7 linked regions of the Homo sapiens genome follow. The protein of the gene in region 2 purifies or fractionates together with the protein of the main gene of each other region. This does not show direct contact. Each region holds a gene or a part of one and is shown on either strand. Other genes may lie near its edges. The genes, in order: FAM241A, TSPAN8, GPAT4, ZDHHC20, POTEF, SERPINA12 and NSUN5.

The links.
Region 1: the proteins of TSPAN8 (region 2) and FAM241A purify together in Homo sapiens (affinity purification with mass spectrometry; one large-scale study listed by BioGRID and IntAct). This does not show direct contact.
Region 3: the proteins of TSPAN8 (region 2) and GPAT4 purify together in Homo sapiens (affinity purification with mass spectrometry; one large-scale study listed by BioGRID and IntAct). This does not show direct contact.
Region 4: the proteins of TSPAN8 (region 2) and ZDHHC20 purify together in Homo sapiens (affinity purification with mass spectrometry; one large-scale study listed by BioGRID and IntAct). This does not show direct contact.
Region 5: the proteins of TSPAN8 (region 2) and POTEF purify together in Homo sapiens (affinity purification with mass spectrometry; one large-scale study listed by BioGRID and IntAct). This does not show direct contact.
Region 6: the proteins of TSPAN8 (region 2) and SERPINA12 purify together in Homo sapiens (affinity purification with mass spectrometry; one large-scale study listed by BioGRID and IntAct). This does not show direct contact.
Region 7: the proteins of TSPAN8 (region 2) and NSUN5 purify together in Homo sapiens (affinity purification with mass spectrometry; one large-scale study listed by BioGRID and IntAct). This does not show direct contact.

What each region holds. Positions count from the first base shown.
Region 1 is NC_000004.12:112,151,954-112,155,453, reverse strand, and holds part of FAM241A (uncharacterized protein FAM241A), read right to left. Parts: intron 1-3,500.
Region 2 is NC_000012.12:71,130,500-71,133,999, forward strand, and holds part of TSPAN8 (tetraspanin-8), read right to left. Parts: intron 2,326-3,500; coding exon 2,194-2,325; intron 1-2,193. UniProt on the Homo sapiens protein: Structural component of specialized membrane microdomains known as tetraspanin-enriched microdomains (TERMs), which act as platforms for receptor clustering and signaling.
Region 3 is NC_000008.11:41,616,200-41,619,699, reverse strand, and holds part of GPAT4 (glycerol-3-phosphate acyltransferase 4 isoform 1 precursor), read right to left. Parts: intron 1,017-3,500; coding exon 888-1,016; intron 803-887; coding exon 723-802; intron 1-722. UniProt on the Homo sapiens protein: Converts glycerol-3-phosphate to 1-acyl-sn-glycerol-3-phosphate (lysophosphatidic acid or LPA) by incorporating an acyl moiety at the sn-1 position of the glycerol backbone. Active against both saturated and unsaturated long-chain fatty acyl-CoAs.
Region 4 is NC_000013.11:21,456,504-21,460,709, reverse strand, and holds the start of ZDHHC20 (palmitoyltransferase ZDHHC20), read left to right. Parts: upstream 1-1,406; 5' UTR 1,407-1,538; coding exon 1,539-1,656; intron 1,657-4,206. UniProt on the Homo sapiens protein: Palmitoyltransferase that could catalyze the addition of palmitate onto various protein substrates.
Region 5 is NC_000002.12:130,087,723-130,091,222, forward strand, and holds part of POTEF (POTE ankyrin domain family member F), read right to left. Parts: intron 416-3,500; coding exon 345-415; intron 1-344.
Region 6 is NC_000014.9:94,506,670-94,510,916, forward strand, and holds the start of SERPINA12 (serpin A12 precursor), read right to left. Parts: upstream 2,801-4,247; 5' UTR 2,673-2,800; intron 1-2,672. UniProt on the Homo sapiens protein: Adipokine that modulates insulin action by specifically inhibiting its target protease KLK7 in white adipose tissues.
Region 7 is NC_000007.14:73,306,027-73,310,088, reverse strand, and holds the start of NSUN5 (28S rRNA (cytosine-C(5))-methyltransferase), read left to right. Parts: upstream 1-1,262; 5' UTR 1,263-1,298; coding exon 1,299-1,391; intron 1,392-1,535; coding exon 1,536-1,658; intron 1,659-2,331; coding exon 2,332-2,506; intron 2,507-2,586; coding exon 2,587-2,695; intron 2,696-4,062. UniProt on the Homo sapiens protein: S-adenosyl-L-methionine-dependent methyltransferase that specifically methylates the C(5) position of cytosine 3782 (m5C3782) in 28S rRNA. m5C3782 promotes protein translation without affecting ribosome biogenesis and fidelity.

The sequences.
Region 1 (3,500 bases), on a different chromosome or scaffold from region 2:
CCCACTAAACTACATAGACCCAATAAAAGAAAAAAGATTTTTTTGAGGGGATGGATAAAAACAATGAGAATATCAACTAGAACTTAGTCTTTGAAATGATTATAAACAGAAAAATACCAAAATTTGCATTCATTTTTCATTTTAACTACCGGGCTTCAATATTTTTAAAATTATAAGTCATAATTGCAGACACACAAATGAAACCACCAGGTAGTCAAAAAGATACACTCAATTTCAGTAATATCTAACAGACGTATTGGAACAGCTGCCTATTGTAGAGAAAGAAATGGTTATGCAATGGAAAAATAATTAAATAAGAGAAGGGCTTTTCATGAACTAATGATATATAACTGTGGGCCACGAACTCAAGAATATGCCTAACTCAAGCCTCTTTTTTTGTGGCGGGGGAGGGTGGTGGGCGCAGACGGAGTTTTGCTCTGTCGCCCAGGCTGGAGTGCAGTTTGCGATCTTGGCTCACTGCAACCTCTGCCTCCTGGGTTCAAGCGATTCTTCTACCTCAGCCTCCTGAGTAGCTGGGATTACAGGTATTCCCCACCATACCCGGCTGATTTTTGTATCTTTTTGGAGAGGCGGGGTTTCGCCATGTTGGCCAGGCTGGTCTCGAACTCCTGGCCTCAGGTGACCCGCCCACCTCAGCCTCCCAAAGTGCTGGGATTACAGGCATGACCCACCACACCCTGCTCAAGCCTCTTTCTGATTTCAAACTGCAGGTTAAGACATTTCTACATTTTATACTTTTTCAAGAATCTACTTTTTTAAAAAAAAATATGAAATCTCTGGTGACATTACTTAGTACCTTGCATATGCAGGACAATATGCTAGATGCTACTACAAGATGGGTAAACTTATCCATTAAAAGTAGCCAGGCTGGGCACGGTGGCTCATGCCTGTAATCCCAGCACTTCGGAAGGCCAAGGCAGGGAAATTGCTTGAGGCCAGAAGTTCATAACCAGCCTGGGCAACACGGCAAAACTCCATCTCTACTAAAAATACAAAAATTAGCCAGGCATGGTAGTATGCACCTGTAGTCCCAGGAACTCGGTAGCCTGAGGCACAAGAATTGCTTGAACCTGGGAAGTGGAGGTTGCAGTGAGCTGAGATCCTACCATTGCACTCCTGCTTGGGCAACAAAGGACTCTGTCTCAAAAATAAAAAAATAAGAAATAAATTTTAAAAAATAAAGTATCAAACTTAGGGGAAAAAAGTAGTCAAAATCAAATATCTCTCCTGAAAAATGACTTTCCTTCTCAATTCTCAATTTGTGGCAGTGAAAATTTCGCTTCTGCTGTTATTACCTCTAAAACTCATGGAATAAGAAATCCTCAATTCAGTCAGACTGATGGAATTTGCAATCATGCAACATCAAACTTAAATTCCCTACCTCTGTAGGCCATCTGCAGACATTCAAGTAAAATTTAATTAAGAGGATACAAAACAAAAATTAAATTATTTTGGATTAATTGGAAGAGGAAATAAAAGAAATTCTCAAACACAGATATTTAAAAAGTTACATGAAAATAAATACTGTAAAAACCACAATGGGAATTTAACTTTCTTAACATTATGTTTAGATATTAAGTATTAATGATAATTTTATCCTTTATTTTCCATAAAGTTAAAAACATTTGTACCATGCTTTCCTTTTGATTAGAACTCTGATAAGCTGCAGTTGTTGCCCTAAGAAAACAGCAAGAAATAAAGCCAATCACTTCCTCTTCCTATGCCAAGATAAGACTCAGCTGCCAATGAAGTTAAATGGCTGGGGGCGGTGCCGGGGGAAACACTGGGTATGGGGAAAAAGATCAGAAGATAGAAAGTATCTTCTGCATCAGGTTGGTTAGAAACTCGGTTTATCTGCTCAAAAGAAGCTACATTTCAAATGTCTTATTAATTCTCTCAAACACACATAAACACAATGAAATAAAACATAACTAGTAGGAACAAGGTTTTCGGAGATAGGTGGCTGTTACTGGAAGATAAGATTATGACTCCAGAAAAGACAGAAAATGAAGACAGTGTTGCTAAGTCTTAAAGAACACATGAATAGAGACACAGAATTTCTACATATTTCTGTTACAGCAAGACTGATGTCATGGTACTTTGAGTTTTTCCTTTTAATCTTGCCTTATCACTTCTTTTGAATAGGAAACTGAGAATAGTTTGTACAGAGGAGGTGGGTATTTTTCCTCTCAAGGATTAGTGAGCAACAAGGGGGAAAAGAAACCAACTAGAGATCTACATAAAAAACAACATAATTTAGGTTGACAGGTTTAATTTTTTCTTTAGAGATTGTCTATTCTAAACATTAGATACATTGTTTCACAATCTTAACACTTTGTTCAATAAATATTCTATAAATTTGAGAATTACATGTACTAAAAACACAGTTCTATGATGTGTTAGTTGAGGGAAATAAGGGGAGGAAAACCAGAGAAAAAGAAGAAAAATAGAAAAGGTGAGGGAGAAATAAGGAGCAAATATTTATTGAGTGCCTCCATGTGTTAGGCATTTTACATACAAAATGAGACTGAATCCTCATAAAAACTTTAAGAGGTGGGTAGCATCATACCCATTACAAATGAGGAAATTGAATCTCTGACGGATTAAGTAATCAGGATCACGGGGGCTAATAAAGAGTAAAACCGGGATTCAAAATTAGATCTGTCATACTTCAACCCCCTTTTCATTGTTTCATAATGCTCAGCTTCTGCACTGAAGTGGAAGAGGTAGGGGAAGATGTATGCAGAAGAAGAGAAAGTGGTTGAGATGCGTGGGGAGGGAAAAAACACATGAGAGAACGAGACTCAACAGAGACAGAAAGGAGATGGGTGGTAGGAAAGAAAGGCAGAAAAGGAATGTGTGAGAAAGCAAAATACAGCAAGTTGCATACGAGGAGCTGCTAGAAGAGACACAGAGAAAAGTTTGAAATTCTGTTTAAAATACAGGTTTCAAGCAAATAAACAATTTTAACCTATCTATTGGAATATCTATTATCAGAGTAATTACTTTTGACAACTCAAAGGACTGTAACCCTTACATATTTTGAATATTGTTTCTCAACTTTGGCACTATTGAAATTTTGTGCCAGATAATACTTCGCTGTAGGGGACTATGGCATTATACGATGTTTACCAGCATTCCTGGCCTTTTCCTATTAGATGTCAGTACCACCTCCTTAGTTTCAGCAATAAAAAAATGTCCAGACATTGTCAAATGCCCCCTATGGACAAAAGGCCCCCAGTTGAGAACCACTGATTTAGAAGTTCCAGTCTGGATGATTTAAAAAAATGAACAAAAGATGCCTATCAAATGCAAAATTATTCCCTGAGTTACTCTAGTGACTGGATGTCCTTAGGAACAAGATGAGATTAAGTTAGGGCAGAATTCAACTAAGCTCATAGCACTTATTACAATATTGCTTGCAAACTGCTTTTAAAATACGTGAAAGGAAGTGAGTATAAACTAATATTTAGTTTTGA
Region 2 (3,500 bases):
AAGACTACACAGTATAATTGTGTTATTTTTGTACTGCCCTGAAATATATTATCCCTTTGATGGTCATATATGTGCAAAGGGCTAACAAAGTATTGCTATTTGTTAAATAAAATAAAATTTCTCCAGAAGGCTAAGTCATCTTTCCCCTTCATTCCTGAATGTATTGAGTTTCTTCATTCACATTTAACCCAACGTGGTAAACATTCAAGGAAATTATTATGTCATTTAGGTTAACAATGAGATTAATGATTATATCTACTGAGTCACATTCATTATGTTTCAGGGGTTTTTCTCTTCCTCTTTGCCTAAGATAATGAGGGTATCTTGGCAAAAGGAAGAGGAAAAAAAAGAAATGTGAATTATGGCCATTCCATATTTTTTATTTTACCAGACTTCTTGCAAATGACACATGGCAGATGGAAGTATTTTATGAATTTACAACCTTCCTTTTGGGAAACTGGTGTAGCTATCAGCCTATATTCAGCTGAATTATGTGTGAACTTACAGAAACTATCTAATAGTTTTTTTAGAATAATTCCAGGGGCTTTTCAGAATCTGTCTTGAGGAAAAACATCTTTCAGTTGAATTTGAACAGGAGACAAATAGCAATCTGCAATTGAATTTACTTATTTCCTCATTATCCTAAGTGGAAACTATTTTTATTTACTCTATATTTATTTCCCCTTTTCCTTGTAAATACTGTGTCACTAACATTAGGTAGGGAGGAGGGGAGCAGGGAGAATATAAAAAGTAAGAATCAAACTTTTTTTAGTAATATTACTTTGACAATGAAAAACGCAATATAACCTGTAGTCTGGTAGATTATTTATTGAGTTACTTTAAATCTTAGCGACATACTTTAAGTATTAATGACAGCAATTCCCCTTCAGGGCAGAGCCTCTTTAATTTTGATAAGATCAGTGAAAAAGATCAGTAGTCAAGGAAAGGGTAGTTTCCCCTGAGATACTTTCTATTTCCTTTTATAAATTATTTTCAGTAGCAGTTACTAAACCAAAACATTTCTAGATTGAAAAGAATCTTCGGGTATTATAGATATTAATATTAATTCATTGTGATTTATAGTGGTTTTTAATGTATCTGCCTCTCAACTAGATTGTAATCTCCTAGAGGATCCAGAAGCATGTCTGATCCTAGCAAGGGTCTGTCTGACATGTAGTAGGCACTGAAGAATAACAGTAAATAAATGAAATACTAATATCAATTGTAATTTTTGTACACATTTCTTCTAAGCAGAACGAACAACTTATGAAGGGACAGATGTCATGTTCTTCATGAAGCCATATCCTGAACCCCACAGACTAAGTGAGATGGGGTCCCATAACACCTTGCACCCATCTCTATCCAAGAGATACTAGTAGACCATTGGATTGAAGTTGCCTAACTATCTTTCTCTCTTCCTTACTTGAGCATCAGCTCCATGAGCGCAGACATTGTGCTCTGTTCAGGAATGAATTCCCGGTGACTGGTAGAAAGCTTGGCGCATAGGAGGTGGTCAGTAAGTATTTGATGAACTGATCAATAAGAAGAACTAGGACATCCATGTATTGACATTCACAAGTCACATAAATATGACATCTACAACACATAAAAGATTAACCTATCTTTTTCAATTGACATTAAATGTTCAAGGTAACTTCTCAATTGCAGCAATAACTAGGTAAATTGGTAGCTGTCAGTAACATAGAGAACCTAAACCCTTAAATGTATTTGGGAAGGACTTGGAGTCCTTTCTTTAAATTTTGGGAAAGAAGAAACCTCATTTCTTGAGAAAAGGAAATTTGATTAGAAAACAAAAAACATTGAAAATTGTAGTGAAAATATTGTTTTCTAGAACTTATGTTAAAGTAGGAAAAAATAAAAGAGAATAATGATTAAGATGACCAAAGAGAGGATAAAATAAACTTTTATGTTAGTTTGTACTTTGCCTCCCATTGCAGTAGAATGTTTCTTTGACCTATTAATATTGGGCTTAAATGATGCCAGACTCATAGAAGAAATGAAGTCTATCTGCTTTTATCTTTAAATAAGGATTTTTTTAATTTGGGAAATTTCTGAGATTTTTATATCATGATTCCCATGGTACTCCATGCATTTTAATTTTTTGTAGGGACTTTAATTGTGAAAAGAAAGTAACAGAATTGCTTATTGTACCAAATGTGATTTAGTTCTCACCTCTTTGTAAACTTGTTTTCCATTATAGCTTTGGCATGGTCTCTGCTTATCTAGACAGGCACATAATTCAGGATAGTGTTGAAAATTATTTCCCCAATCAGCAGCTCCATTGACCAAACCGCAGCATTTAAACTGTTTGATAAAAGGTAGAATGAGAAGCAGTCAGTAAGAAGATTAAAAACATTGGCAATACATTAAATTATAATCTTCTGAAATCATTATTAAAGGTTATTATGCTAAAATACCATGTAAGTCACCTTTCACCTTTCTCTGTGTAGAAGTAAAAATTAAGGATTTTTGCATTTTGATCTTTACATTAATGATGGAAAAATGGAGTTGCAGACTCAAAAATCTGAAGAAGTTGGGAAGATGAAAAACTCACCTACTAGGTTTTTTATTTTTATTTTTTTGAGATGGAGTCTTGCTCTGTCACCAGGCTGGAGTGCAGTGACGCGATCTCGGCTCACTGCAACCTCCAACTCCCTGGTTCAAGGGATTCTCCTACCTCAGCCTCCCGAGTAGCTGGGATTACAGGCATGCTGCACCACCACGCCCAGCTAATTTTTGTATTTTTAGCAGAGACCGCGTTTTACCATGTTGGCCAGGATTGTCTCAATCTCCTGACCTCGTGATCTGTCCACCTCAGCCTCCCAAAGTGCTGGGATTCCAGGCATAAGCCACGGTGCCCAGCCTCACCTACTAGTTTTTAATGACAAAAGAGAGTCAGATCTCTGTAATTTAGATATTGTCAAAAAAGTTTCCAAAGAATTCACAAGAGAGTCAAAGAATTGTTGCTCAAAAGAGACATGAAGTTTTAAAAGTGAAATTTCCACTCCATGATCTCTGATCACTTTTGAAAGACAGGAGGAAAAAAATGAGAGATATTGCAAAGACCCAAATAGATGCTCAAGGAGCCTCCCATAAGATTGAATTTTATGAACATCTTTAAAATATGGGAGGGAACACAAATGAAGAATGAAGCTCTTAGAATGTCAGGAAAGTTACAGTCCCAGAATAAACTGATCCATGGAAAACACTAAAAAAGAGGGTTTGCAGCCACATTTGAGGAAGAAAAACAAGGAAATGATAACCCCAAGAATCAGGGCATGTGGCACATGATATTATTAGATGGGAGAAAGAAAGATAATTATCCCTCATGTTGCTTCCATCTGCTCAATTAAGGGGAAAACACTTCGTGCAGAAATGGGAGGAAAAAAAAATGGCTGAGAAAAACAGAACCAAGACTGAGTGGTTTTCCCAGCTCTGATACATTGCAATGCCAAGATATTGAAAGAATTTTCACTTAC
Region 3 (3,500 bases), on a different chromosome or scaffold from region 2:
TAAATGCCCCACAGAGTGGAAAACTTTCTCTGAACCAGCATTGACCCCTGTCAGTCTCCTACTGTTTGGGATAAAACTACCTCATACTCTAGTATAAGGGCTGGTCAAATGCAGCCCACGGGCCACATCCAGCTGATACCTGTTTTTGTAAATAAAGTTTTATTGGAACACAGCCATGCTCATTGGTTTATAGACTGTCTGTTTTCACACTACAATGGCAGAGATCATCAGTAGCTGCAACAGACACCATATGGCCTGCAAATCCTAAAATATTTACTGACTACAGAAAAAGTATGTCAATCCTGCTCTATTAGGTAACAAGCTGAATACACCAAACACAACCTTTACCTTTCTAAGAATGGTTCAATTTTGCCAGATACACTGGGACCTGGGAAAGTCCTCCTTCCTTCTTGAAGTTTTCAGATCAGTAGCAGGTCATGCCCACCCAGAGATGGGCACTGTCCAGGTGTCCTGGAAGACTGGTTCAAACCCCAGAAAGGTACACAGAATCAACTGCCTCAGTCCAGGCATCCCTGATCCAGGTTCCCCAAGGTCAAGGAAGCACAGGGCACTTCTGGGTTGGAATTCGGGGAGAGTCAAACTGCTCTCTCTAGAGCTGACAAGTTTAATTCTCCACACCACGGGGAATGACATGTAAGTGAAGTCAATGACACAGCATCTGCTGCAGAAACTCAGCTGAAAAGGCCTGGCTCTAAACTTACCACAGCAGGTCCACAAGTCCTCCCTGCCTGGCAATGGCAGATTTCACCCTATTCGCAAACTGGACAGCATCTTCATCTGCCTGTAAGAAAGAACAAATGAGACCACTCAGCCCCGGCTTGACGTTACACAGAGCAGGCGCAGACCTGCCTGGGGCAGGCACTCACCTCTCTAGTCATGGGAGGCAGGTACCACACGCTGCAGACAATGGCCCAGCTGGTCATCATTCGCAGCAGGTACGTCACCATCCCGTATTTGCTGCTGTTCCAGAAGGCATCGCCAAATTGAGGGTCATACTGAAAACAATGGAAAGCTGGAGGTAAGACATGAGTAGTTCTCACAACGTTTGCGAGTCCACAGTGACTGCTGTGAGTGACTCCACTGGGCCGTGCTGGTACTGGGGTGCTGCTCCCTGACCTTGCATGAGTACTGTGGAAGCCCCTCTCCATGTGGCCGGTTCTGACTGTGAGCAACACTGATCTCCCCCGAGGAACCCGGCCTCTGCTACAGATCAGTAAGGAAGGCTCCCCTGACAGCCTGCCTCAAGCAAATGTCTTCCCTCCTTGATTAGTTTCAGGTCTTACTCATAGGTATATAAAGTTTTCAAACATCTCCAAAACCAGGGAGAAAAGGATCATGCACTCCCATGTACCCATTCCCTGATTCAACCACCGCCAACGTTTCCCACTTGCTCCACCTGTCCCCTCTCAGCATCCTGTCATTCATCTAGTGTACCTCCCCCAAATAAAGATATTTTCTTACACAAACACCAACTTTTAAATATGATTTCTGGTGCCCAGACCAGGGAGGAAACTATTAGAAAGCTTCTACATTTACACTTCCAACAAAGTCAGTCGTCTGTTCAGGAGGCGGCTCTGTGCTCACGCTGACAGCCTTGGGAGGTCTCAACCACACAGGCCTGCATCTACCATGAAGCAGGTATCAGATCCTTTCATTATTTCATTGGCATTTTGCAGAAAATGTAGCTGCAGCTGTGACCCACATTCTCACCAAACAAGTAGCTGGAGGGGCAGGTGAGCAGGGTAGGTAAGCTCTAGAGGAAGTTGCGCAAGGAGCAACAGGAGGACCTGGGTGCTTGAGAATGCCTGGACAAAGTGCCTGGTGCTGCCAGCGAATGTCTGAAGGGATCCTGTACACAAGGCAGTAGGCTGACCTTGTGCAAACACCCAGGACCAGAGTGGAAAAATAAAGGAGCCAGAATTTCAAGAGTTATGCCACACGGCCATGCTGCCAACAACATCAAAAATGCCCTTTCCCTGGGAAAGCCTGAGAAGGAGCCCAGGGCAGGGTCCTGCATGTGGGATGGGCTAGGGTTGAACTCTATGATCTTATAGGCCTTTCCAGCCTAAGTTTTATGATCCACAGTATAAATACTGGACAATTTTGACAAGACTGTGGCCCTAACTACAAAAATGAAGATAACTTAGGCTTAATTATAGAAGCTAAGAAAATTAGATTTAACTACAGAAGACTTAATGTGTTATTATAATACCAACAGAAACAAGGGAAAATAATAAGTTTTTAAAACTAAGCAATGTGTATGATCAGAAAGTATTTTTTTAATTTTAATTTTATATATAATAATATACATTTTGAGACAAGAGTCTCACACTGTCGCCCAGGCTGGAGTGCTGTGGCGCTATCTCGGCTCACTGCAAGCTCCACCTCCCAGGTTCACGCCATTCTCCTGCCCCAGCCTCCCGAGTAGCTGGGGCTGTAGGCACCTGCCACTACGCCCGGCTAATTTTTTTGTATTTTTAGTAGAGACGGGGTTTCACCATATTGGCCAGGCTTGCCTCGAACTCCTGGCCTCAAGTGATCCACCGGCCTCAGCCTCCCAAAGTGCTGGGATTACAGGCGTGAACCACTGCATCTGGTCATGTCGTTGTATTTTATAAAGCCTGATATGGACAGAAATTCTGATGTCACCAGAGTGTGAGAACCCTTTGTTTCGGGCTGATTCTCTATTCCACACTGGGCAGTGTGTGTGGACAGAGAAAAAAGGCAGAAGCTCAACACAGCGACACACTCCTCACATCAGGTCATGGCTGGATTCCGGTGGAAATATAAGAAGAGCCTTGAAATCGCTAAGGTTATCCAAGTTTGATTACCAATAAAGAGTTCACAAAAACCAGTAATCTGTAGACCAGATGTTCTTAGCCATACATGGGCTCTACTCTGTGGACTAAATGGAAATGTATCTAAAATTTATAAGCATTTTACTTTGGAGAGGAGCGGAAACTCCTCAGGGTTCGTGTTCTGACAGCAGCTAAGAGCCACTGCTTCAGAACTGTGGCCGCCACAGTGTGGTCCCAACTGGCACCATCAATGCCACCCAGAACATGTTAGAATGGAAAATCAGAAGGCCCAGCGGGGTGGCTCAGGCCTATAATCCCAGCACTTTGAGAGGCCAAGGCAGGCGGATCACTTGAGTCCAGGAGTTCTAGATCAGTCTGAGCAACGCGGGGAAACTCCGTCTCTACAAAAATTAAAAAATTAGCCAGGTGTGGTGGTGTGCACCTGTAATCCCAGCTACTTGGGAGGCTGAGACACAAGAATCACCTAAATGTGGGAGGTCAAGGTTGCATGAGTCATGATTGTGCCACTGCACTCCAGCCTGGGTGACAGACTGAGACCCTGCCTCAAAAGAAAAAGAATAGGAAGTTCAGAAACCCTGGGTGTGGGGCCCAGCAATCTGCATTTAAACAATCCCTGCAGGCAATGCTGATGCAGCCTAAGTTCAAGAGCTGCTGTTCTGG
Region 4 (4,206 bases), on a different chromosome or scaffold from region 2:
CCTACTGTCAACTAGGCCACTAACTAATATGACTTTTAAGGCACAAAATCAGGGAGAACAGAATCTTTTATACATGCTTTATTACTCAAGCAGCAGTGTGCAGTGATTAAATACTTACTCGCTTTTACTACATTTCTCTGACACAGCAAAGGGTGACGTCTTCTTCATGGAGACTTTAGTGAGCAGTAGCTAATTTAAAGCTCAGTGTAGGCCGGTCGTGGTGGCTCACACCTGTAATCTCAGCACTTCTTTGGGAGGTGGAGGCGGAGAGGGGTTGGGATTCCTTGAGCCTTGGAGTTCAGGGCCAGCATGGCAACAGGGCGAAACCTAGTTTTTACAGAAAATACAAACATCAGCTGGGCATGGTGGCGGGCCTGTAGTCCCTGCTACTCTGCAGGCTGAAGCAGGAGGAGTGCTTTAGCAGGGAGGTCGAGGCTTAAATGAGCCCAGGTCGTGCCACTGCACTCCAGCTTGGGCGACAGAGCGAGAAGACCCTGTTTCAAAAAACAAACACAAAAATTCATTCTAACCAAAACTGAATGCTAGTAGCAGGAACTGGTATGAAGATTGCGGTCTGGAATCCCTTCTAATGCGTCTGACCTTGCATTGTGAAGTCTTCACAGTGATGCTTCTGGGTTCTATATGATTATCGTCATTGCTTAGCAACCTCTAGTTGTAAATAAATTCTTTAAATTTCCTTAGTCGTTTGCGGGGCAAGGAGAGGGTCATTTACATGCCCTTTCCTTCTCGCTACTCAATCTTAAATTTGGGTTACGAATCAAACTGATGGACCCTACATGGCTTCTACCCGAAATTACAGGTATCTACCGTTCCATCTTCAAGAAAGGGAGGGGTTCCGCCAAGATGGACGAACATAAAAATCACAGGAGGAGCCTTCTAACAATGTGCATTCTTCGCACACTGAGTGGGGAATGGCCTTGTCATGTTTGAAACAGTGCCCCAACTACTCAATGTCCCAGGAACCCCAGTGGAGCGAGTTCTGTACACAGAGAGGGCCAAGATCCACAAATCAGCTAAGGAATCATTTCCATAGTCTCCCTCCCCTATTGAGTCTCGATCCACAAAAGCTATCCCCTGTCCCTCTCATCCATCAAGGGCGTGTTTTTCGCCTCTCCTTCCCCGGCCTCCCGCGTCCGCCCAGCCTGTCCGCATCCAGCCCCGCCACGCCCCATGGGCGGTCCCGAGCTGCGGCCCCGCCCCCTCACCGCCTCCCCGGCCGCGGAAACCCCGCCCCAACGACGCGGAGACCGGGGGCGGCCCGCGGCCCGCGGCGGGCGGGCTGGCGGGGACGGACGCGGGGGGAGGGGGGCGACGGGATGTGGGGTGGGGGCGGGGCCTGGCTGGGCGCCGGGACGGGAGGAGTCCCGGCGGCGCCTCGGACTTTTGCTCCCACAAGTCCTGCCTCGGAGGCGGGGGAGCTGGACCAGCAGCCGCCTGGAGCGTCCGAGTCACCGTCGCCGGGGCTCCCGCGCTCCCCAGAACGGTGGGACGCGGGGCTCGGCAGCCGCCAGCGGAACATGGCGCCCTGGACGCTGTGGCGCTGCTGCCAGCGCGTCGTGGGCTGGGTGCCGGTGCTCTTCATCACCTTCGTGGTCGTCTGGTCCTACTACGCGTACGTGGTGGAGCTCTGCGTGTGTGAGTACCGTCCCCGGGGACTGCGGCGGGGCGCGGGCCGCGGCTAGGGCGCGAGATAGGCCTCTGCGCCCCACACCCGCCGCCTTTCTGGAGCCAGCGCCGGACGCCGGGCGTCCGGCCCCGAACGCGCTCGGAAGCGCCGAGGTTGCTGCACCCGCCGCTTTGTTCAATCCTGCGGCGCGGCCTTGGGGCGACCTGGGGCTCCTGAAGCCTTGCGGCGGCTTCCCGGGTGCAGGTCTGGCCCAGGGAGGCCCCAAGAGCTTCCTGGTTCCCGCCGACACCGGGGGTCTGCATCCTTCTGGGAAGGAACGTGCAGAACGGGAGTAGTCGAGCTTCTTAGAAGGTTTAGGTTGTGTTTGTGGCTTTTTTGGCTTTTGTTCATTTTTTTTAAAAAACCAAATCTGTTCCTTCTGGATTGTTTTTGTTCAAACTGCGCGAGAAGAAACGCCTGTTACCTGTAGAGCCGGCTGTGGCGGGTTGGGGGAAGGGAGGTGTGTCTTTTGGTGGCCTCGGGCTGGAGGCGGGTCAGACCTGGAGGACGAGTAAGCTCCCACTTTTGATTTTTGGTGGTACTCGACTCATTGTAAAATTCGTTTATTTCTACTCTGAATCCAGCCGGCTTTTGCAGAAGGTTAAGACAGAAAGAATGGGTGGGAGGAGACATAACCTGATTATTTTTTTCTTGGCTGATTATTAAGGAGGCTTATATTTCTTATACTCATATTTTGGCGTGTTAATTTTCGTTACTTCCATTTTCCTGATAAGTTCTTAGCACAAAATTCTCATCTGATTCCCTGGAAAAAAGGAGTAGCATTGCAGTATACTTCAAGGATTTAACCTACTGGCTTGAATTGGTTGCCTTTAAGATTGAAGGAAATTGGTTGTCATTAATCAAAAACACTGTTTAGGGGTGACTGCTACATTTGTGATATTGGGCAATTTCTCCAACATTGTTTTGTCTTAAGTAAATTGTTCTTAGGCTTTGAGTATGTGGGTATTTTACACTTAAACTGGCCTCAACTAGGGTGTTCTGTATACATCTGCTGCCTATATCAATTTTTTATGAAAACCTAGGACCAAATGGTAAGTGGTGTTTGTAAACGTTATTGTTATTCCAGAATGTTCTACTCTTAGTCCTTAGACTGAATCTACCATTTTATGAAGGACTGTTAAGTGTTCTTTGAATAACGAACCACATCAGCTAGAAACTAATGTTATGAATGAGAAGAATCTGTACCACCCACTCTTGAAAGTGGCAGAATCAAGACTTCAATTATGTTTGGATTTGTACAGCTTTCAACCAAGTATTTGGTTAAAACCCTAGTTCTATACATGGAAGAGAATGCTTTGGCTCAGAAAATTTATAAGTTTTGAAATTAAAACATCCAGTTTTAAAATTACTTTGTACCTATAGAACGTTTAATTTTGGGACGACTATCCCTGCAGGTAGGCCCAGAATAAATTAGTTGTGGAATACATTTCCAAATAATATTAATCTTTTCAATATCATTGTTTAGTCTCATGCTTTTGGATACCAGAATGTTTACTAAAAATGATGTTTGAGTCAATTAAAATTACTAGATTTTAATATTTCTGGGAGCTACTTCCAGAAAGTGGTAGTGATCATAGGATTCTCATCAACTTATGATGATACCTCCTTTATCTTCTTATTTACTCTGAAGTGGGCATTTATTCTAAAAGTTATGTCATTCCTATTCTGTCAGAAGATTATTCCTACCGTATTTTAATTCCCGTAGTGGTTTTGAAGTAAAGCTGAAGGAACACTAAAAATGTGCATTTATGTTGAGATTCCACAGCTTAACCTGTAGATGGTTTTTGTCAAAAATATTAAGAAATGAGATCAAACAGTGCTGTGAAAAGTCTTAAATTGCTTCTGATTTCTTTCACCACTTCAAATAAAGAAGGAGAAATGAACATGAATTGAGAAGTGCCATGTGCTAGTGGGCATAGAGGGGACATTTCATTCACCCTCTCCTTTAATTCTTTCAGTATGTCACAGCATAGGTATCTCTACAGGTGGAGGACGTGAGACTGAGCGAATAGGTCCTTTTGGTTAGGTCACACAATTGATTATTGGAATGTGACCCACATCTTTCCGTTCTTTCATATAACTTCAGTAAGCTATGAGGGTCAATGGAACTGTAATTGTTTGGTCCATAATGGTGTGGGGGGATAAAGGGGTTGGCATATTTTTGGAGATCACTTAGTTAGGCTTGAGGCCCATTCTGTAGAGATTATACCCTACAATTTCATTAAGTTAAAACATTCTATAACTATGGCCTGATGCTTGGCAGAATCTTAAAATATTTGGTGGTGAAAGGTCTTATGTAGAGGCTGTATTAACTTCTGAGTTATCTCATTTTAACTAGAGAGAATTTGGGAGGTCTGCAGTGTCACTGGAGTATAAAATAGTTGAGCATAAAAGTGCATTTACTCATATTAAAACTATCCTTTAAACTACTTGTATGTATTTGTTTTCATAAGTACTGACCCTCCCACTGAAATATGTATAGATATATTACTTTATAG
Region 5 (3,500 bases), on a different chromosome or scaffold from region 2:
CCTGGGTTCATGCCATTCTCCTGCCTCAGCCTCCCGAGTAGCTGGGACTACAGGCACCCACCACCACGCCCAGCTAAGTTTTTGTATTTTTACTAGAGACGGGGTTTCACCATGTTAGCCAGGATGGTCTCGATCTCCAGACCTCGTGATCCACCTGCCTCAGCCTCTCAAAGTGCTGGGATTACAGGCGTGAGCCACCTTGCCTGGCCAAAAGATTCTTAAAAAAACAATCTACTGATTCTCAAAGCCTAGTCTGAAAGGTAATTTCATTTGGACTATCTAATATTATTAAGGCAAAAAAAACACAACATTAAACAAAAGTTTAAATTTAAAAGTTTCCATGCCTCTGGCTGGCCATTTTCACTGCCTTTAAGCCTTTGTGACTCTTCCTCTGATGTCAGCTTTAAGTCTTGTTCTGTTGAAAAATCCATACATTCAGTTAAAATCAACCACTTAAAACAGTTAAAAACTATTGCCTTTTAAAAACAGATTTGAGACATTTCATTTTATTTCATAAATTGAGTGTTTCATCTTTTGTGAAATTGTCATTTAAGAAATAATTCTCAAAAACTTCAAAAACCCACTTGGGGAGATAGCAGATGTCACCAGATTGAAGACAAACAAACATGTCAAAAATTCCCTCACAAATTCATCCACCCAACATCCATGAACAAAACCACCAGAAACACAGCTTTAAAATACAGTAGAAACATATAAGGTGACACAGTGTACTGTTCTCCACTTCCTAATAGTACCTTATAAATGATTTCCAAAATCACTGCTGACACCTTTATTAGTGTACAACATCTTCCTAATATCTAAAATGTTTCTCTCCACTATTCTGACAAATTTATTTTCTTTTTTTCTTTTTTCTTTTTTTTTTTTTATGAGCTAGAGTCTTCCTCTGTCACCAGGCTGGAATGCAGTGGTGTGATCAGCTCACTGCAACCTCCGCGACCCTGGTTCAAGTGATTCTCCTGCTTCAGTCTCCTGAGTAACTGTGATTACAGGCAAGCACCACCACACCCAGCTGATTTTTGTATTTTTAGTAGAGATGGGGTTTCACCATTGGACAGGATGGTCTCGATCTCCTGACCTCGTGATTCCCTCTGAAAGTGCTGGGATTACAGGTGTGAGCCACCACACCTGGCCTTATTTTCATCTTTTGAAACAATGCTATATGAAGTCTTCCTTGATTCTGCATGTCTTTCCCCAAATAAACAGGTACCTCCTTCCTTGAGGCTGCCTTAGTACTTTACTGATTTTTCTACTGCATCTTGACCACCTAAACTGTACATTATTCCTCCACGTCTGTCCCCTCTGCTCCAAGACTGCAGGGGAGAGTCTTGCACATCATCTTTGTAAAAACAGTCTTTGTTTTACTCAGAAATATTTTATTGAGTCCTGCTAAATACATGCTAGGCATTAGGGTTTAAAAAGAATTAAAATAAAGCATGTCAGAGATGGCTTTTCTAGAACACATGCCCAAGCAGAGACTTAAATATTGAGACTAGCCAGATTAAAAGGTGTAGAGGGCAGGAAAGGGTGACGGCATGCCACGCAGCAGCAAGAGCGGGAGCGACTCCTGAAAGAGTGAAAGTATTTGCCTACAATAGAAGGATGAGTGAGTAGGGCACTGCCAGCAGTTCAGTAATGCCAGAGACAGGGCACACAGGGAAAAGGGCTAAAGATGGAGAGTGGGGCAGAAGTCAGATTATGAAAGCATTATGTGTAATTTTAAGATGCTTGAACATTAATGTTCAAAAGTGGTCCCGGGTCCTATCTGCATTTAGATATAGATCATTTCAATGCCAAAACCAATATTCCTAGTGAACAATTATTCATTAAGACAAGGTGACAGATAGCTCATGTGGACACAGCTGAGATGATACAATGTAGCAAATTCTAAACAATTCTCATGAACACTTGGAAAGTCAGTTCTATAATAAAGTCATACAAATTATAATAAATCAGTAAATATTTGGTTTCGGAAGATGCTTTGTAAAGTTATAATGCATATGAATACAATTAACAGTCGTGAATTCAGAGCTGTGAAAATAAATCAAAGAAACCACATTGTGTTTGAGTCAGCAATCTTTAGATTTCTATCCAGTCTTCCCATCCAGTCCATAAATTCTAAGTATAATCCTGGTACTCACTCTCAAGTTTACGTTAAATACTATCCCATTACAAAAAAACACTCTTTCTCTTACTTCTTTTCATTATGTCCTGCTAAAAAGATTCTGATTGGCTGCAGGCGGCAAGAGGGAAAAACAAAAAGCACATTTTGCAGAAAATGATTATTTAGAAGTCAGAACTATGACATGAAGCCAAGCAGGGCACTCTAGGACCGAATTTGCTGTGCTGCCTTCATACGCTCCTTGCTCTTTCTTTTCTGGCAGCTGTGACTCACACAGGTCATGGAGAGTATCATTCCCTAAGAGGAACAACTCCGATATTCATCTTTATCTATTAAGTTCATCTGTCCCAATTCTGTGTTCTGTGGATGCTGACTTTCTGTCACGGACGATGATGCACATGGACATTTATTACTGACTTTCAGATTCTTGGATCTTTGACAAGTCTTATTACTTAGAGTCAAACTAGTAGGATGCGAGTTATAAATGCTGATTATCCAATTACCTACTCAAAATACCCTACACGAATATTCCATTAAACATGCATCGAAAAACATTAGTCATTCCTGCTGACCTGCTGCTCTTTGCTCTCCTGTATTCACCAGAAAATTTCCTACTCCTTCCTCATGTCCAGGTTAAATACTAGTGTGCAATCTGGAAACCTGTACATCATCTGAGATTTCTCTCTGTCCCCCAAGCCTTTCTCATTCAATTATCACTAAATCATATTGACTATACCTCTCTTCTGCCTCTGTTTTATATTCCCACTGCCACTGGGAACACAAACATTTACAAAATGACTTCTATTTAAAAGAAAACTGCCAACTATTAATGTTATTTCTTACAGGAAAAAAAATTAAGCAAAACAAGTGAAAAAGGCATAACGAAGGCCAACATAGTAAAATGAGTAACTGAGATTTCTAACGTTATTTATTTTACCATGGACGGGTGAAAACCTTGTAATACATTGATGCTACTCCAAGGATGTGTGACATGGAAACTATAGCTGACTACTGCAAAAGCTTCCTTTGTCTCCTGGTTTCTTTGCATGATTATCTCCCATCAATCCCAGGAAACTATAGGCCACAGGCCAAATCCAATCTGCATTATGGTTTTGTAAATAAAGTTTTATAGGAGCTCAGTCATGCCTGTTTGCTTACATATAATCATGGTGGCTTTCACACTACAACAGCAGACAACAGCACGGTTAAGTAGATATGACAGAGACCACATAGTCCAAAATATTTCCCACCTGGTCCTTTAAAGAAAAAGCTTGCTAACCCATTTTACACCATAACCAGAATGCCTTAATACTCAAATTTAATCTTGTGGCTCCCCTGCTCAAATTTCTCCAATGAGCCC
Region 6 (4,247 bases), on a different chromosome or scaffold from region 2:
GTTTCCATCCTGGGAGTGCATTACAATCATCCAGGAGCTTTAGAAATACCTATTTTCAGAACATTCCTCTAGAGATTTTGAGTTAGTTGATGCAGGATAAATCCTGGGTGAGGGTGCCTTTAAGAACTTCTCTCCAGGGGATTTAATGAGTACTCAAGGTTGAGAATCCCACTCCAAAGCAAGTGATTCCCACCTGATGATTCCCAGGTCTTTTAAAGCATTCAGCCACCAGGTATCAAGATGGCTGTAAAGCCACAGTATTAAGGTATTGGAACAGAGACAGACAAGCTGACCAATGGAACAGACTAGAGAATCCAACAGAGCCACACAGGAAGTCACCTGATATGTGACAAGGGCATCGCTACAGTTCAAAGGAAAGGATGATCCTTTCAATGAATGATGAAAACAACAACAACAACAACAAAACACCAGTGGATGTCCATACAGGAAAAATATAAATAGTGACTATTTTACTCAACATACAAAAATTAATTTGAGAAGTCACAGACCTAAATGTGAAAGGTATTAGATTGGACTATATGAAACTATTGGTCTTTAATATTTTTTAACCTCAAAACCCACAAGAATCAAAATGATAAAGCTTCTAGAAGAAAATATATTAATAGTAGACAATCTTTGTGACCATGAGATAGGCAGAAAGTATTAACCATTTTTACAAAATGATAAATGGAACTTCATTAACATTAAGAGCCTTGTTCCTCTAAAATTACCTAGGACAGTACAAAGGCAAGTCACAAGCTGGGAGTGGTACGTGTAATGTCTGTGTCTGATAAAAGGCTCATGCCTGTTTTTAAGCACTTCTACAAATCGACTGAAAAAAGACAACAACTTAAAAACTAAGCAAAGACATGAACAAATACTTCACAAAAGAAGATATCCAAATGGCCAATAAGCAGCTGAAAAGGTGCTCGACATCATTAATCATCAGAAACATGCAAAACAAAACTACAAGAAGAACTCACTACACACCCACTAGAATAGCTCAGATTAAAAGGACCAGCCACACGAGGACGTGGAGCAAGTGGAACTCTCTTATATTGCGGGTGGGTGTGCAAACCGACACCAACGTGTTGATTGGAAAATTGCTTGGCAGGATCTATAAAAGGTAAACATATGCTTACCCTTTGACCCATTCATTGTACCTCAGGGTATATGCCCAACAGGAAATGAGTGCTTGTGGGTTTACCAAGACATGTACTGCAATGTCCATAGCAGCTTTATGTGATAGACCTAAAGTGGAAACAACCCAGATGTCCATTTATAGTAGAGAAGGGAGAGAGAGAAAGAGATTCCTGGCCACCATCCCAGATCATACTTTGCATTTCCCTGGGTGTCCCCACTCTTCTTTGGTTTCCACAGGATCCCCAGTTGATGCTTGTGACAGACAGCTATGGGAGCCAGTGACCAAGAGTGTGAAACACTGCAAAGCCCAAATCCCACTAGAACAAATTATACTGTACCTCCAAGCAATAAGGCAAAGACTGAGTAAATGCAATGTATTTTCAGTCATTGAATTCAACTCCAATTGGGGAGCTTAATCAATAAATGATTTAAAATTAATAATAATTGATTTTGAAAGAAAATATTTTTAAGCAATCTCCGGTAAGATCCTAGGTTACCCTAAAAAGCTTCTAGTACAAAATGTTGAAAATCTTTCCACACAAAAATCTAAACAAGTAAGAAATAAAAGGAGAGAAATAGAAAATTTAGAAAATTTTTTTTTAATGGGAAGCATTCTGTAAATAGTAAAAAATTCAAGATGGCATTTCAGAACATTCGAGAAAAGGTGAACAATTCCATAAATGCTATTAGGAAACAAACAAATCATTTCAAAAATAAAATTACAAGTGTTGGAATAAAACCTTTTCATAATGTTAGAGTGAAAAAGAACTTCCTAAGTGTGATACACAAGCCAGAAACCATGTAGGAAAAGATGGCATATATGGATATACCATCTTTTTGCAACGTGTTAAAACTCTACAGAATATGTAAAATTTGGAATCACAAATTGGAACATGTGTACAAGATAGAGAGCTAATGTTCTTAACAATTAAGAGTTCTTATATATATCAATAAGTAACCACATGTGTTTCTCAATCAGCAAAAAGTAAAAAATTTGGGTAAATATGCATTGAAACATTGTGGGTGGGGGCCAGCTTTGATTTTCCTCATCTTATTTTCTTCTTTGTCTTTGTCTCTGCAGAACAGGGTACTTCCATGCACATATTAGTAGATACGGTTATTCATAGACATTATGTATTTTTCATACCAACTTTGCAAGTTTGGGTGCTGCTAGACCCATTTTTACACATGAGAAATCTGAGTTTCCTATAGCTGCACAGTTAGCAGATTCAGGACTCAAAAATCAGGTCTTCTGGTTCTGAATCCCTTTTTCCATGGATAGCTTTCTGGTAGACCATAAATGAAAGCATGGCCACAGCATCTTGGCAGCCAGCACAGACCCATGGAACTCTTGGCCAGACTGGTGATCCAGCCCTAGGGCTAGGCATGAGAAGGACGCAGAATGTCTGTCTATTTGAGTGATCACCTTGGCCCTTGGTTGTCTTCTCTAAGACAGAGAAACAGACAACACACACACACACACACACACACACACACACACACACACACACACTGCCCCTTGGACTAACCTCACCTCCCCAGTTTCTCCTTTCCCCTCAGGTCAGTCTTCCTTGGCCTTCCCCAGTTGTTGCTGATCCCAGCCTCCTAGTCCTTTTTCGGTCCTGGTCCTGCAGCCTTCAGGTTCCAGGTATGTTCCTCTAGGCTCCCAGCCCCACAAGCCTTATCTACAAACTGGGTGGACTTCTGCCCAACGACCTACTAAGCCTGCCTCTGCCACCTCCACCCCTTTCCCAGGATCAGCCTGGCCAACTGGCCCTGCCAAGTGTCTCACTCAGAGAGCAATGCGTCTGGGAGTTCCCTTCCTCACCCCTTGGGAAAGATCAGGCCTACTTTTTCTCTCCCATCCCAAATAGCAAGGGGCACTGTGCTAGGTACACCCAAGGTGCTCTGTAGATTCACTGATGAGGGCCTGGCTTGCTAGGACCTGAGTGTTTGGCACCCAGTAAACCTCATAAAAGTGAGTGCACCAGAAACCAGAGTGACACACGCCATCCCCTCCCAGCTCCACAGCCCTGATCCCTGTGATCATCTTTGAGCAGAATCGTCCACCCCAGATTCCTTCCCTGGGACAGGACAGGAATGGGTGTGGGCACCCTGGCACTGCTATAGAATACCAGCCGCCTGGCACAGATGTTCACATGGCCCTCTCTCACCTCCCAGGTGCAGCCTGGGAGCAGGCAGCCCATCCATCCAACCCCACCCCACTCCCGAGCTCTGGGACGTCTCAGGGCCTGGGCCTGTGGTCTGGGTACCAGACATAGGTGACTCATAATGCACCTGGTGGCTGGAGAAGCCATCCCTTCCTCTGGTTCTCAGTGTACTCACCTGTACAATGGGCAATAGGAGACTGCATTGGATCTGTGGTTGCCTGAGAGAGCCAAACTATTGGAAGTCATGCTGTCAATCAATTTCACTTAAAATAATATAGACCCAAGTCCGTGCTAAATGTCATTCAAGCCAGATCTAGATGCTGGTAGAAGAGCAGAACAACAGAGGATATAAAAAAAGAGCATTTGCTCAACATTACTAACCATCAGGGAAATGTAAATGAAAACCACAATGAGATACCACCTTACTCTTACAAGATGGCCATAATTAAAAAGTAAAAAATAAAAATAAAAAAAATAGATGTTGGCATGAATGTGGTGAAAGGGAACACTTTTACACTGCTGGTGGGAATGTAAATTACTACAACCCCTATGGAAAACAGTATGGAGATTCCTTAAGGAACTAAAAGGAGAGCTACCATTTCATCCAGCAATCCCACTACTGGGTATCTACCCAGAGGAAAAGAAATCATTATATGAAAAAGACACATGCACACACATGTTGCGTAATTTCAAAGATATGGAACCAACCTAAGTGCCCATCAAACAATAAATCCATAAAGAAAATGTGGTATATACACACCATGGAATACCACTCAGCCATAAAAAGGAATGAAATAATGTCCTTTACAGCAATTTGGATGGAGGTGGAGGCCATTATTCTAACTAAAGTAACTCGGGAATGGAAAACCAAATATTGCATGTTCTTGCCCATAAGTGGGAGCTAAGCTGTGAGCACAGGTATAAGAATGATAT
Region 7 (4,062 bases), on a different chromosome or scaffold from region 2:
TAGGATTACAGGTGTGAGCCACCACACCTGGCCAGACTGATCTTTTAAAGAAGTATATGTTAGCACAGCACTCCATGACTTAAAAACCTTAAGAGGACTACCATTTCTTTCAAGATAAAAGAATAAAATCCTCGCTGGGCACAGTGGTTCATGCCTGTAATCACTGCTTTGGGAAGCCGAGGTGGGAAGATCACTTTAGGCCAGGAGTTCGAGACCATCCATGGGCAACATGGTGAGACCACATCTCTACAAAAGATAAAATTAGCTAGGAGTGGTGGTGCATGCCTGTAGTCCCAGCTACTTGGAGAGTGAAGTGGGAGGATCGCTTGAGCCCTGGAGTTTGAGGCTGCAGTGAGCTATGACGGTGCCACTGCACTCCAGCCTGGGTGACGGAGTGGGACCTCATCAAAAACAAAAACAAAACCGTTATTGTGGCTTTGAGGCCTGGATCATACCTACATCACTTAATTTGGCCAAACCGGCCCATTTCAGGTACCCAAATACCCCACGTGCTTTCTTGCTTGGCTCTGGGACTAATGTGGTTACTGGTGCAGGGTGAATGGCAGGTATTGTAAACCACATTGTGGACCTAGAGTTGCTAGGACCTTTTTTGCCATTACACAGAAGCCTCCCTGAGAACACAGCCATTGGATGACACATGGCAGAGGAAGATAAGACAATAAACGGAGACACAAAATTATGGCCAGCGCGGGGGCTCATGCCTGTAATCCCAGAACTTTGGGAGGCCAGGGTGGGCAGATCACCTAAGGTCAGGAGTTCAAGGCCAACCTGGCAAACATAGTGAAACCCCATCTCTACTAAAAATACAAAAATTAGCCAGGTGTGGTGGCGTGGGCCTGTAGTCCCAGCTACTCGGGAGGCTGAGGCAGGAGAATTGCTTGAACCCGGGAGGCGGAGGTTGCAGTGTGCCGCGATTGCGACACTGCGCGACAGAGTGAGACTCTGTGTCAAAAAAAAATTATATATATATATATATATATATAATGACTAATACACATGTGAAGATATTTAACCTCAGTAACTTCAGTTAAACAGCAGTAAAATCCCATTATTTGCCCATCAGATTGGCAAAAACTTAAGAACTAGAGAAGAAGTGGCGAAACGGGCTGCAGCGTCGCACTCCCTACCCCGGCAGGTGCGCGATCACACACACGCCTTGCAGGGCGACTTCGACCGGCACTTCCGGTCCCGGAAGGTCGTGCTTTTTGACCCCGGAAGTCCGGGCGGGCGCCGAGCCGGGTGCGTTTTGCCACAGAGCCGTAAAGGCGCGCGGGAACATGGGGCTGTATGCTGCAGCTGCAGGCGTGTTGGCCGGCGTGGAGAGCCGCCAGGGCTCTATCAAGGGGTTGGTGTACTCCAGCAACTTCCAGGTAGCGGACCTGGGCGCGAGTAGTAGGGGTGGGGAGTGAGGAACCCGGGGTGGGGTCGGACGGGCCCGGGTGGGGTCGGGAGGTGGGGCCCGGCGAGGAGGGCCGGGGGAGCCCCCACCCAGCTTGTCTTCCTCGGCCACACAGAACGTGAAGCAGCTGTACGCGCTGGTGTGCGAAACGCAGCGCTACTCCGCCGTGCTGGATGCTGTGATCGCCAGCGCCGGCCTCCTCCGTGCGGAGAAGAAGCTGCGGCCGCACCTGGCCAAGGTGAGGGGAGGGGAGGGACGGGGAAGTGAACCCCGACGGTCAGCGCTTTGTCATCTGGTCTCAGCTCTGCTGCCGTGCACGGCGGGACTGGAGCAAGTCGCTCATCTGAAATGAGTATGAGCCGACCTTCCCTGGGTTACGAATTAAGATGGGATGAAAATGCTTTAACTTTGAGTGTTTTGAAGGATTAAATAACCGAAGTACAAAGTGGTAGTGGCGGAGACTGTAAGGAAGTCGGGCGTGGCGGCGCGCACCTGTGGTCCCAGCTACTCGGGAGGCTGAGGGAGGAGGATCACTTGAGCCCAGGAGGTCGAAGCTGCAGTGAGCTATGATCTGGCCACTGCACTTCAGCCTGGGCGACAGAGCTAGACCCCATTCTAAAAAGAAAACCCAAACCCACGAAAGGGTAATGTTGGCAAGAAGTTGGGTGCAGAGGTGTCTACTGGTGAACATCGGTGGAGAAAGGGTCTAAGGCTGGGAAGCGAGACGCCAGGTTCCGATCCTGTTCTGTAGTTAATTTCTGGTGTGATCTTGGATAAGGTATCCCACCTGTATCTTGTCAGGTGATCTGTTTAGCCATTCCATTGCCGGGGCTCCATTAGAGTTAGTTCTAAGGCATTCATGCTTCATGCTTAGGGCATTTTTGTTTTTGTCTTTGTTCCCTCATTCCCAGGTGCTAGTGTATGAGTTGTTGTTGGGAAAGGGCTTTCGAGGGGGTGGGGGCCGATGGAAGGCTCTGTTGGGCCGGCACCAGGCGAGGCTCAAGGCTGAGTTGGCTCGGCTCAAGGTTCATCGGGGTGTGAGCCGGAATGAGGACCTGTTGGAAGTGGGATCCAGGCCTGGTCCAGGTAAGCTGGAAGGAGTTGGGGGGTGGGGGAGGCGGGGAACTTTGCTCCTGCCTACTCACTGCTCATTGCGTCCTACGTAGCCTCCCAGCTGCCTCGATTTGTGCGTGTGAACACTCTCAAGACCTGCTCCGATGATGTAGTTGATTATTTCAAGAGACAAGGTTTCTCCTATCAGGGTCGGGCTTCCAGGTGAGAGCTTAGAGCCCTGGCTGTCCTCATCTAGGGAGGTGTCTGGGGTATTGGGAAGAGAAGTGGCTGGATAGTTGTGACTTTGCTCTCTGGGCTTTCTTCCTACCTTTCCAGCAGTTTATCCATCTCCAAGGTTTGTCTTCCTGCCATCCCTTAAACATCGAACTCCTAGGAGCCTCATCCTACATTCTTCTTGATCTCTCCGTTTTTTCTCTAGCTTTAACTCCTGCCTCCCACCTGGTGATTCTCACCACCCAGTGTAGACTTCCCTCTTGCATTCTTACCTCCTCAGGTTCATATGAACGCACCACAGATGCTAACAGTCGCTGCATTTGTCATCTTTCCTCTCAGACTTTACACCTAGTACATCCCCAGTTAAATCTAACAGATGTCACCATCTTCCACCCATTTGGTCAAGCCAGAAACTGAGTCATCCTAGGTGCTTCCTTCTCCTCCCTCCAATCATTTACTCCCCTACCTTGAGCATCTTTCTCAGCTCCACTCCTTTCTCTCTTTTTTTTTTAGACTGAGTCTCACTCTGTCATCCAAGCTGGAGTGCAGTGGCATGATCTTGGCTCACTGCCTCCCGGGTTCAAGCGATGCTCCTGCCTCAGCCTCCTGAGTAGCTGGAATTAGAGGCTCCCACCACCAATGTCCAGCTAATTTTTGTATTTGCAGTAGAGATGAGGTTTCACCATGTTGGCCATGCTGGTCTGAAACTCCTGAACTCAGGTGATCTGCCCGCCTTGGTCTCCCAAAGTGCTCGGATTACAGGCGTGAGCCACCACATCTGGCCTCCACTCCTTTCTCTTCAGCCCCTCGGACACTGCCTAGGTTAAGCACTCATTTCTTATTGGGATGACCACAAGAACTTCCCAGACTGGTTTCTCTGCTTCCAGACTGTCTCACTGCATTTTCCTTGAGGTTGACTGTAGGAAGCTCTAAAGCCAGATCTGATGCTGTTACTCCTCTGCTAAGCTTTTTTTTTTTTTTTTTTTTTTTTTTTTTGAGACAAGGGTTTTGCTCTTGTTGCCCAGGCTGGAGTGCAATGGCGCAATCTCGGCTCACTGCAACCTCTGCCTCCTGGGTTCAAGCAATTCTCCTGCCTCAGCCTCCTGAGTAGCTGGGATTACAGGGATGCAGCACCACGCCCGGCTAATTTTGTATTTTTAGTAGAGACGGGGTTTCTCCATGTTGGTCAGGCTGGTCTCGAGGCTCCTGACTTCAGGTGATCTGCCCGCCTCGGCCTCCCAAAGTGCTGGGATTACAGGTGTGAGTCACCGTGCCCGGCCATGCTAAGCCCTTTCTTGGCTCCACTGTGCTGTCCCTCCTGCTTTCTCTCAGGTCCATCTGCCACGGTGCTGCGT